2 linked regions of the Homo sapiens genome follow. The protein of the gene in region 1 interacts with the protein of each later gene in a pairwise test. Each region holds a gene or a part of one and is shown on either strand. Other genes may lie near its edges.

What was found.
Region 2: the proteins of CYBRD1 (region 1) and CASP6 interact in binary tests that used the Homo sapiens proteins (3 or more experiments, as listed by UniProt).

The regions. Positions count from the first base shown.
Region 1 is NC_000002.12:171,538,574-171,543,965, forward strand, and holds part of CYBRD1 (plasma membrane ascorbate-dependent reductase CYBRD1), read left to right. Parts: intron 1-3,011; coding exon 3,012-3,220; intron 3,221-5,392. UniProt on the Homo sapiens protein: Plasma membrane reductase that uses cytoplasmic ascorbate as an electron donor to reduce extracellular Fe(3+) into Fe(2+).
Region 2 is NC_000004.12:109,696,001-109,700,445, reverse strand, and holds part of CASP6 (caspase-6 isoform alpha precursor), read left to right. Parts: intron 1-2,103; coding exon 2,104-2,146; intron 2,147-2,677; coding exon 2,678-2,824; intron 2,825-3,959; coding exon 3,960-4,036; intron 4,037-4,445.

The DNA.
Region 1 (5,392 bases):
GTAGCAGTCCTTCAGGGTTGGGATTAAGTAAAAGAAATATTGTCCTAATGGTGAGGACTGTTAAGTGTTAGAATGGAACCAAAGAATAGGAAAAATGACATCCTGTGCTGAAAGCTTTAAAGAGGCTGAATTCACATCGGTCTTTGTAGGTTTAGATGTGTTTCTGTCTGAAAAAGGAATAGATAATCCCTTATATTTTTATAATCCTATGAAGTTCTTGGGTGTTTGTTTGTTTGTTTTTTGAGACAGAGTCTCATTCTGTTGCCCAGGCTGGAGTGCAATGGTGCGGTCTTGGTTTACTGCAACCTCCGCCTCCCGAGTTCAAGCGATTCTCCTGCCTCAGCCTCCCAAGTAGCTGGGATTACAGGTGCCTACCACCACGCCCGGCTAATTTCTGTATCTTTAGTAGAGACTGGGCTTCATTATGTTGGCCAGGCTTGTCTCGAACTCCTGACCTCAGGTGATCCACCTGCCTTGGCCTCCCAAAGTGCTGAAATTACAGCACCGAGTGGCTCACTGAGCGCAGTGAGCCACTGCGCCTGGCCTGAAGTTTTATATATTAAAATTATAAAAGCCTTTGGTGAAGTGAGGCTCCTTTTTATTTTCTGGAATTAAGAAATGTACATGAGGCCAGGCACTGTAGTTCATGCCTGTAATCCCAGCACTTTGGGATGCTGAGGCGGGTGGTGCACTTGAGCCCAGGAGTTCAAGACCAGCCTGGGCAACATGATGGAATCCCATCTCTGCTAAAAATAGAAAAAATAGCAGCGTGTGGTGGTGCATGCCTGCAGCCCCAGCTACTCAGGAGACTGAGGTGGGAGGATCACCTGGTCCCAGGAGGTCAAGGCTGCAGTGAGCTGTGATCGCAACACTACATTCCAGCCTGGGTGACAGAGAAAGAAAAGAAAAGAAATATACGTGATACCCTGCTGATATAGTGGAATCCATCGTCTGAGGAAGTATTCTATAAACTTTTTCAATCTGCCACACATTTCCAGATATCTAAATTTTCCCTGACACAGACTGGAGGGATGGATAGGGGCAGGATTTTATCTTCAGAACAAAAATTAACTGAATGTTGGTTAAGGTGGCCATATAATTTATTGCTTAAACCAGGACACTTAAGACAACCCTTTGTAAAAAAACTTTTGTTTTCTTTTTTTTTTTTTCCCCGAGACGGAGTCTTGCTCTGTCACCCAGGCTGGAGTGCAGTGGCATGATCTCAGCTCACTGCAACCTCTGCCTCCCAGGTTCAAGCGATTCTCCTGCCTCAGCCTCCCAAATAGCTGAGATTACAGGTATGCACCACAATGCCTGGCTAATTTTTTTGTATTTTTAGTAGAGACAGGGTTTCACCATGTTGGTCAGGCTGGTCTTGAACTCCTGACCTCAAGTGATCTGCCCACCTCGGCCTCCCAAAGTGTTGGGATTACAGGCGTGAGCCACCGCGCCAGGCCATAAAAAACTTAATTGGAGTTTGTTCTACATGCAGAATGATGAATCTTCTGTCTATGACACCTGTGAAACCAGCACCTAGATTGAGAAACAGAATGTTAGTAGGAGTCTTCAAAATCCCTTGTGTGTTCCATTGTAATTGCTGTATCCTTCCCCACGAAGGCAACTACTATCCTGACTTTTCCAATGCAGAGATGAGTTTTGCTGGTTTCTATACTTCATATAAATTGAATTACACTATATACTTGTTAACGTCTGGCTTCTTGAGATTGACATTATAGGTTGATCCATATTACTGGGTCTAGTTCTAGTTGTAGATCGTTTCTTTCCATGGTGTAAATTTATTTATTCATTCTATTGATGATGGGCATTTGGGGGAGTTTCCAGGTTTTGGTTACTATAAATAGTACTGCTAATAATATTCTAGTATCTTTTGATGATCATATAAATATTTCTTTTTGGCATATACCCGAGAGTGAAATTGCTGGACAATAAGGTATGCATAACTTTACCTTAAGTAGATACTGCCAGTTTTCCAAAGTTTTGTTCTCATTAAAGCACTCATCAGCAGAACATTAGAGTTCTGACTGCTGTATATTCATTTTGATACTTGGTGTTTTCCAGGTTTAGCCATTCAGATATGTGGTAGAGGTATTCTCATTCGGCTTAAATTTGTATTTCTCTATTGCATGGTTTAAATTTGCATGTTTTTCTGTTCCTTTCTTTTTCTTATCAAACTAAGACTTTTTTTTTTTTTTTTGTCTTCCTCTGTTGCCCAGGCTGGAGTGCAGTGGCGCAATCTCGGCTCACTGCAACCTCTGCCTCCCGGGTTCAAGCGATTCTCGTGCCTCAGCCTCCAGAATAGCTGGGATTACATGTGCATGCCACCCCATGCCTGGCTAATTTTTGTATTTTTAGTAGAGATGGGGTTTCACCATGTTGGCCAGGCTGGTCTTGAACTGCTGACCTCAAGTGATACCCCGCCTCAGCCTCTCAAAGTGCTGGGATTACAGGCATGAGCCACTGGGCCCGGCCAAACTGAGACATTTTTAAGAAGAAAGGAGACAACAGGCATAAATCAGATTGTTAAGATTAGGAATTTGGTTTTGGATAAGTTTGAGATGTCTGGGAAGCAAACGCCGTACGGAAATACCAAGAAGACATTGGATTATGCAGATCTGAAGCTTAGAAGACAGTTCTGGGCTGGAGATATAAATTTTTTGGAGTCCCTGCCATGGAGACAGCATTTCAGTGAAAGAGTGAATGAGATCACCCACAAGAGGGAGTGCAGAGGGAGAAAAAGCCCTAGGACCGAGCCTGAGAGGCACCAAGGTTCATTCACAAGTTGGGAGTGAAGAAAATGCCAGCAAAGGAACTCCTCCACCGTCCCCTAGAGGGAGCCACTGAGAGGCAGGGGTAACATGGGGAAGAGGGGAGAAGCAAAAGCCAAGGGAAAAAGGTTTCAAAAAGGGAGTGTCCAGTGTGTCAAACTGTTCATTTTGTGTTGTTTAAAAAACAAAACAAAACACATTCTGTGTCCTTTCGTCTTTCCCTAGCCATCATCGTCTACAGACTGCCGTGGACCTGGAAATGCAGCAAGCTCCTGATGAAATCCATCCATGCAGGGTTAAATGCAGTTGCTGCCATTCTTGCAATTATCTCTGTGGTGGCCGTGTTTGAGAACCACAATGTTAACAATATAGCCAATATGTACAGTCTGCACAGCTGGGTTGGACTGATAGCTGTCATATGCTATTTGTTACAGGTCAGTATTTCAGTGTATTTACAAGCAAGTTATAAAAACAATTCAGAGACTGTAAATGTTTTCTTTTCTTTTTTTTTTTTTTTTTTTTTGAGACAGAGTCTCGCTTAGCCACCCAGGCTGGAGTGCAGTGCTGCGATCTTGGCTCACTGCAACCACTGTCTCCAGGGTTCAAGTGATTCTCCTGTTTCAGCCTCCCAAGTAGCTGGGATTACAGGTACCCACCATCGTGCCAGGCTAATTTTTGTATTTTAGTAGAGATGGGGTTTCACCATGTTGGCCAGGCTAGTCTTGAACTCCTGACCTCAGGTGATCCGCCTGCCTCAGCCTCCCAAAGTGCTAGGATTACAGGTGTGAGCCACCGCGCCCAGTGACTGTAAATGTTTTCTAAACATTCTTTACATTTGTTTCTATTATAACTATTTTCCCCTCAGAGAGCACCAGAATTGCAGAATTCACAGAACAAAATAATAAGAAATAAAGATTTCTTATACTGGATATGACTTTTAATCTGGATTCTCTAAAAACCAACTTATACTCTGCTCTATATCTTAATATGTAAAATTAAGAAATATCAGGCTGGGCATGCTGGCTCATGCCTATAATTCCAGCATTTTCGAAGGCCGAGGTGGGAGGATCATTTGAGCTCCGAAGTTCAAGACCAGACTGGGCAACATAGGGAGACTGTCTCTACAAATAAAGGAAAGACAGAGAGAGAGATCGAGAGAGAGAGAAATCAAGAGAGAGACTGATCTAACAATTAGCAATAAAGAGAATACCTATTTAAAAATCTGTGGGTCCTGGCTGGGCATAGTGCACTGCTCACTCCTGTGATCCCAGCACTTTGAAAAGCTGAGACCAGTGGATCGCTTAAGCCCAGACGTTTGAGATCAGCTTGGGCAACATGGCGGAACCTCATCTCTAAAACAAAAACACAAAAATTAGCTGGGCAGGGTGGTGCACACCTGTTGTCCTGGCTACTTGGGATGATGAGGTGCACAGCTCCCTTGAGACCAGGAGGCAGAGGTTACAGTAAGCTGAGATTATACCATTGCACTCCAGCCTGGGCAACAGAGCCAGACCCTGATCTCAAAAAAATAAATAAATAAAAATCTTTGGGGTTTAATTAAAATGGTTCCCAGAGGAATATAGGCTTAAATGCTTTTATTATATTTTTTGGAAAGAAAACTTAAAATACATAAGCTATTTACTTAGGTAACTATAAGGGAACAGCAAAATATACCAGGAAAAGTAAATCAATAAAGGTAAAAAAAAATCCATAAATAATTCATTTTCTATTGTGGTAACCAATTACCACAGACTTAATGGCCTGAAACAACATAAATTTATGACCTCACAGTACCTGTACATCAGAAGTCCAGATTGGCTTGTCTGGTTTCTCTGCTCTGGGTCTAACAAGGCCAGTATCAAGGTGTCAGCCTTCCAGGGCTCTGATTGGGAGACTAGGGTAGAATCAGCTTAAAGCAAATTCAGCTTGATGGCAGAGTCCAGGTCCTTGTATGTGCAGGACTGAGGTCCCTGTTCCCTTGCTGGCCATCAGCTGGGGCTGCCCTGAACCTTGGAGTCCTCTCTTCCTTGTACCCGGCTCCCTTCATCTCCCTACCAGCAATGGACATCCAGTCCATCTCGCTGGCTTGGAAACTCTCTGACTTCTCCTTCTCCTTCCTCCTCATCTCTTCTCCTCAACCAGATAAAGTTCTTACCTACCCCAACCCCTAGAGGTTACCATTCTCCCGGTGTTTATTCTCATTCTCTGCTTTTTAAAATACTTTAATCACATACTGTGAATCAATATATTGATTAAACAAGATGTTTAATTAAATAATATTGATTAATTAAACAAGATGTTTAAATATTGATTAATTAAATCATATATTGTTTAATTTTGCTTTTTAAATGAAACTTTTTTTAAAAAATGGTCTCATATATATTCTATTGCAACTTTTTTTTAACTCTACTGATTAAACTGTATTGATTCCTCTGGCTATAGTTCATTCATTTTTACTTTTGTATTCCACTGTATAAATATGCCACAAATTTACTTACCTGTTCTCTTGCTATTTTCAGTTAGAAACTATGCTGCATTGAATATTCATATATACATCTCCTGGTCCTCACATCTAAAGGTTTCTCTGGGCATATACATAGTAGTGA
Region 2 (4,445 bases), on another chromosome or scaffold:
GGCTCAAGAGATCCTCCTGCCTTGGCCTTCCAGGTAACCGGGACTATAGGCTTGCCACTATGCCCGGCCAGAACGTCATTTTAAACAGATTTTCTTGAGCAGCTACTTAATACTAGTTAGCCATTCCTAAACCTGTAGGTCTTGACTAATGTGAGGGCATATTTGAGACAACCCAAACTCACATCTTAAGTTATTAATTTTAATGTGTCAGCTAACAACTGGGAAGCTACTTCTTTGGCAATATGAGAAACAAGAGTTTTAAAGACCCAAGCAAGAATACATCTCCAGTGTTTTCACCCTGAGGGATATGAGTTAGTTTGCTGAGCAGCCATTTGGCACAGCTTCCATGAGTTAGGTTGTGAGCCGCCTTCGGCTCAGCAGTCAGTATGGAGCAGAAGCCACAGGAGGTGAGCCGCTGGCCTGCTGCCACCGAGGAGGACACTGAGACATGAGTGCTTTCCAAGTTGTGCAGAATTTTGGCATGTGAGGAGGATGGTTGTGACATATGGATTTAATTTTCTTGAAGTTATTGTTTCTTTATACTCTAATTGGTTAAAAGATAAGCAGGTGAGGTTATCAAAAGGCAGTAGATTCCGACAGCTTTTGAAAATGGGAAGAGTGAAATCCCTGTGCTGTCTTCATAGAGCAGTGTGTGGAGTAGGAAGTACCTCGTTACTGTGCTCACCTAGGGCAAAGGTCGGATTAAACAGCTTTCTCATCTGCCATGCAGCGGGGAGGACCAGTTGGAGAGGTTGCTTTTGGCTCTCACACCTTAGTGTAAAAATCACTTTGTGAAAAATGCAGCTGTCACCTCCTTCCTCCAAGATTCTGATTCTGCCTCAGTTAGGATCCAGGAATCTGCATTTTAACATGCACACCAGGAATTCTGATGCCCAAGGTTGAGCAAAACTGACTTAGGGCGTACAGACAGAGGATGCCTTAGTGTGGGGTCTTAGTTGGGTCTCATTGCTTGGGGCAGTTCCAGGAGGAATAGGCTAAAAGGGACTTGAACTGAATTCCCCACCTTGTATTTTTTTTGAGGAGAAGTGAGGTTAGATCAATCAGGTGATGGGGGCTAGTAATGGGGAGATCTCTAAGGAGAGGGGAACCAACCCTTTTGGCTAGGAGATGATGGGTAAGAGTCCATGCTTTAGGGTCATTCTTCCTCAACTGAAGGGTGCATCTTGCTATACTGCTAATATTTCAGTTTATTCATTGCTGTCTCCCCTCTAAGCTGTTGAGCTATCAGGTAAAAACAGATGCATGAGTGGATGGGGCCTTTATTGTAGAAGATGCCACACTTTGCACTGTCCAGTGTAGAAGCCACTGGCCAATTCATTTAAATTGACAATAAAATCGAGTTCCTCAGTTGCATTAGCTGCATTTAAATGCTCAGTAGACACATGTGGCCAGTGGCTACCTTATGAGACAGTGCAAATACGGAACAATTCCACCATCACAGACACTTCCATGACATAGCACTGCTCTAGAGAGTAGAGAGGAATTCAGTGGAAGGCTGTCCAGGGAGTAGGGAGTCCAGTTGAGAATGGAGAGCAGAGGGCTCCCCTTACAGGGTTGGAAATGCAGATGTGTCATGCAGGAGATCCAAGGTCCAAGTCTTTGCCCTTGCCCTTCCCTTCCTCCACCCAAACTTCTACCTCTTCCAGGCTTACACCACTGCTAATCCAGCATTAACCACAAACTATATTTCAGTTTTCCTGTAGGACTTAATTCTTTTTCAGAAAATGTGCAAAAACATTTTCTGCATAACAAAGCAACTTCATATTTCAACTCCGTAATCACAGAACTGTTACTCTAGGCATATTTTGCAGTGAATGCATTTGTGTAATATTTTCTCCATTTCTGTTTATAAGATTGTTATTTTGCAGGTCAAGTTGGGGGTGAGAAAGCATAGAGCTGTTATAGTTTGTTTATTAGTAAGCAGTTTCCCTTCATTTCCTTTTCTTCACATACTTTGGCTTTTAAACTAACCAAAACAGAAGGGTCTTAAGAGTTTGGGAGTCAGAAGGGGGATGGGAGTTCCTACTATATTTTACTGCCATAAGTAAAAAATAATTAACAAAAATCAACTTTTTTTAATAGGTGGGGAAGAAAACATGACAGAAACAGATGCCTTCTATAAAAGGTAAAGCTGTGCTCTTTTCTAATAAAGGTCTCTTCCTTTGATGGTCATGATCAGCCTACAGAAATCAAAGCAAGAATGGGTCCTGGGAGCTAGGAAGTAAAACTGAGTAGGCCAAGTTTTAGCCTTTGGGGAGCTCATTTGTAGATAGGCAGGTTGTGCTGCCCCTGGTTGTCGAGGGACCCGGAGTGATGTTCAGAATGCATATTAATTGGCATGGCATGAGCCTAGAGCTAGAACTTGGTTCTGAGCCTCGTGGTTATTCCTGGTTGCTGGATCCTGGGGGCCAGGGGAAAGACATCAAGGCAGAGGGTTAGGGATGTGTCAGGATGGCACATGGCTGCTCTTTACCAATTGGCAGAGAGATATTTCAGGACTTTCCTTATTAGCATGGCCTTTCCTGGAGCACACCCATGGAACATCAGCCTGGCAAGGAGGAAGCTCAGATCTCTATCTACATGTTGACCTAGAACTTGGAGGGGCTCATTATTTAATATGACTTGAAGTGATTGTTTTTCAACTTTTCATTAACAGAGAAATGTTTGATCCGGCAGAAAAGTACAAAATGGACCACAGGAGGAGAGGAATTGCTTTAATCTTCAATCATGAGAGGTTCTTTTGGCACTTAACACTGCCAGAAAGGCGGGGCACCTGCGCAGATAGAGACAATCTTACCCGCAGGTAGTAGTTTTATCTACCTATCAAGATGAGGCAGTTAAGTGATAAAATTACTTTTGGCCAGGTGTGGTGGTTCATGCTGGTAATCCCAGCACTTTGGGAAGCCAAGGTGGGAGGATCACTTAAGGCAAGGAGTTTGAGACAAGTCTGGGCAACAGAGTGAGACCTGGTCTCTACAAAAAATAAAAATCAATTAGCTGGGCATGGTGGCGGTAGTCCCAGCTACTCTGGAGGCTGAAGGGGGAGGATTGCTTGATCCCAGGAGTTCAAGGCTGCACGGAGCTGTGATCATGCCACTGCACTCCAGGCTGGGCAACAGAGTGAGACCTTGTCTCTAAAATAAAAAATAAAATAATTTTTTTCCATGTTTCCAAATGAAAAGTTAAAAAAAATTAAAAATTAAAAAAATTCCAGACTTCTAGATGTAGGGAAAAGTTACTTATCATAACTTGTCAACACTAATGAGGTAACAACAGATCAAGAGTGTTGGAGCATGGGCCTTGCTTTGATGCAGCCTCCCTTAAGAACTTGCCTGAGTTGGCCGGGCATGGTGGCTCACTCCTGTAATCCCGGCACTTTGGGAGGCTGAGGCGGGTGGATCATAAGGTCAGGAGATTGAGACCATCCTGGCTAACATGGTGAAACCCTGTCTCTCCTAAAAAATACAAAAAATTAGCCGGGCGTGGTGGTGGGAGCCTGTAGTCCCAGCTACTCGGGAGGCTGAGGCAGGAGAATGGCATGAAGCCAGGAGGCGGAGCTTGCAGTGAGCCAAGATCAAGCCACTGCACTCCAGCCTGGGCGACAGAGTGAGCCTCTGTCTCAAAAAAAAAAAAAAAAAAAAAACTTGCCTGAGTTATTTTCCTTACTCTGTTCTATTAAATGTTGACAGGCTTTTGCATTTGTACTAACATTTGCATAGTAGACAACAACACTCTAAATTGAATCGGCTGTCATTATGATTAAATCCTTTCCGACCATGGTGAATGAAGGGAAAACCACCATTGTTATATTTCATTTCTTTTCTCCTAAAGAAAGCAAATTTATGTGTCGTTAAAATGTGTATAGATTCTTCCAAAGTAAGGGTATTTGACAACTTTGAAAAGTTTATAGGCTAACATTTCATTTAATATACCACTAGGTTTTCAGATCTAGGATTTGAAGTGAAATGCTTTAATGATCTTAAAGCAGAAGAACTACTGCTCAAAATTCATGAGGGTAGGTAGTTTTGCTATCATATAGTTCATCTTCCTCTAATGAAACCGAGTCCTTTATCCTATCTGTAAAGACAGGTACAAGTAATTACTTGTGTGACAAAAAAAGTATTAATTTAGCACAGGTTACAGGTTTTGGGTATGCTGCTGTGTTTCCGTTACCCAGCACATTTAGAGACCCTTGCAAATAATTATGCCTCTAAAGTTTATATTTAGCATACCACTAGTTACAGTCTCTTGTAGAAATGAATGAAATGACCCCTTCAATTGGCAGTAAAAGCCTAAAATGCAAGTACTACAGGTGCTGGGCAGTCAACAGGCTCATTTTCTCATTGACTCCTTTCATGCCTCATTTTCTCACTGGTTTCCAAATAGTGTTGGTTTACATACATTACCTCCTTTAATTCTCACAG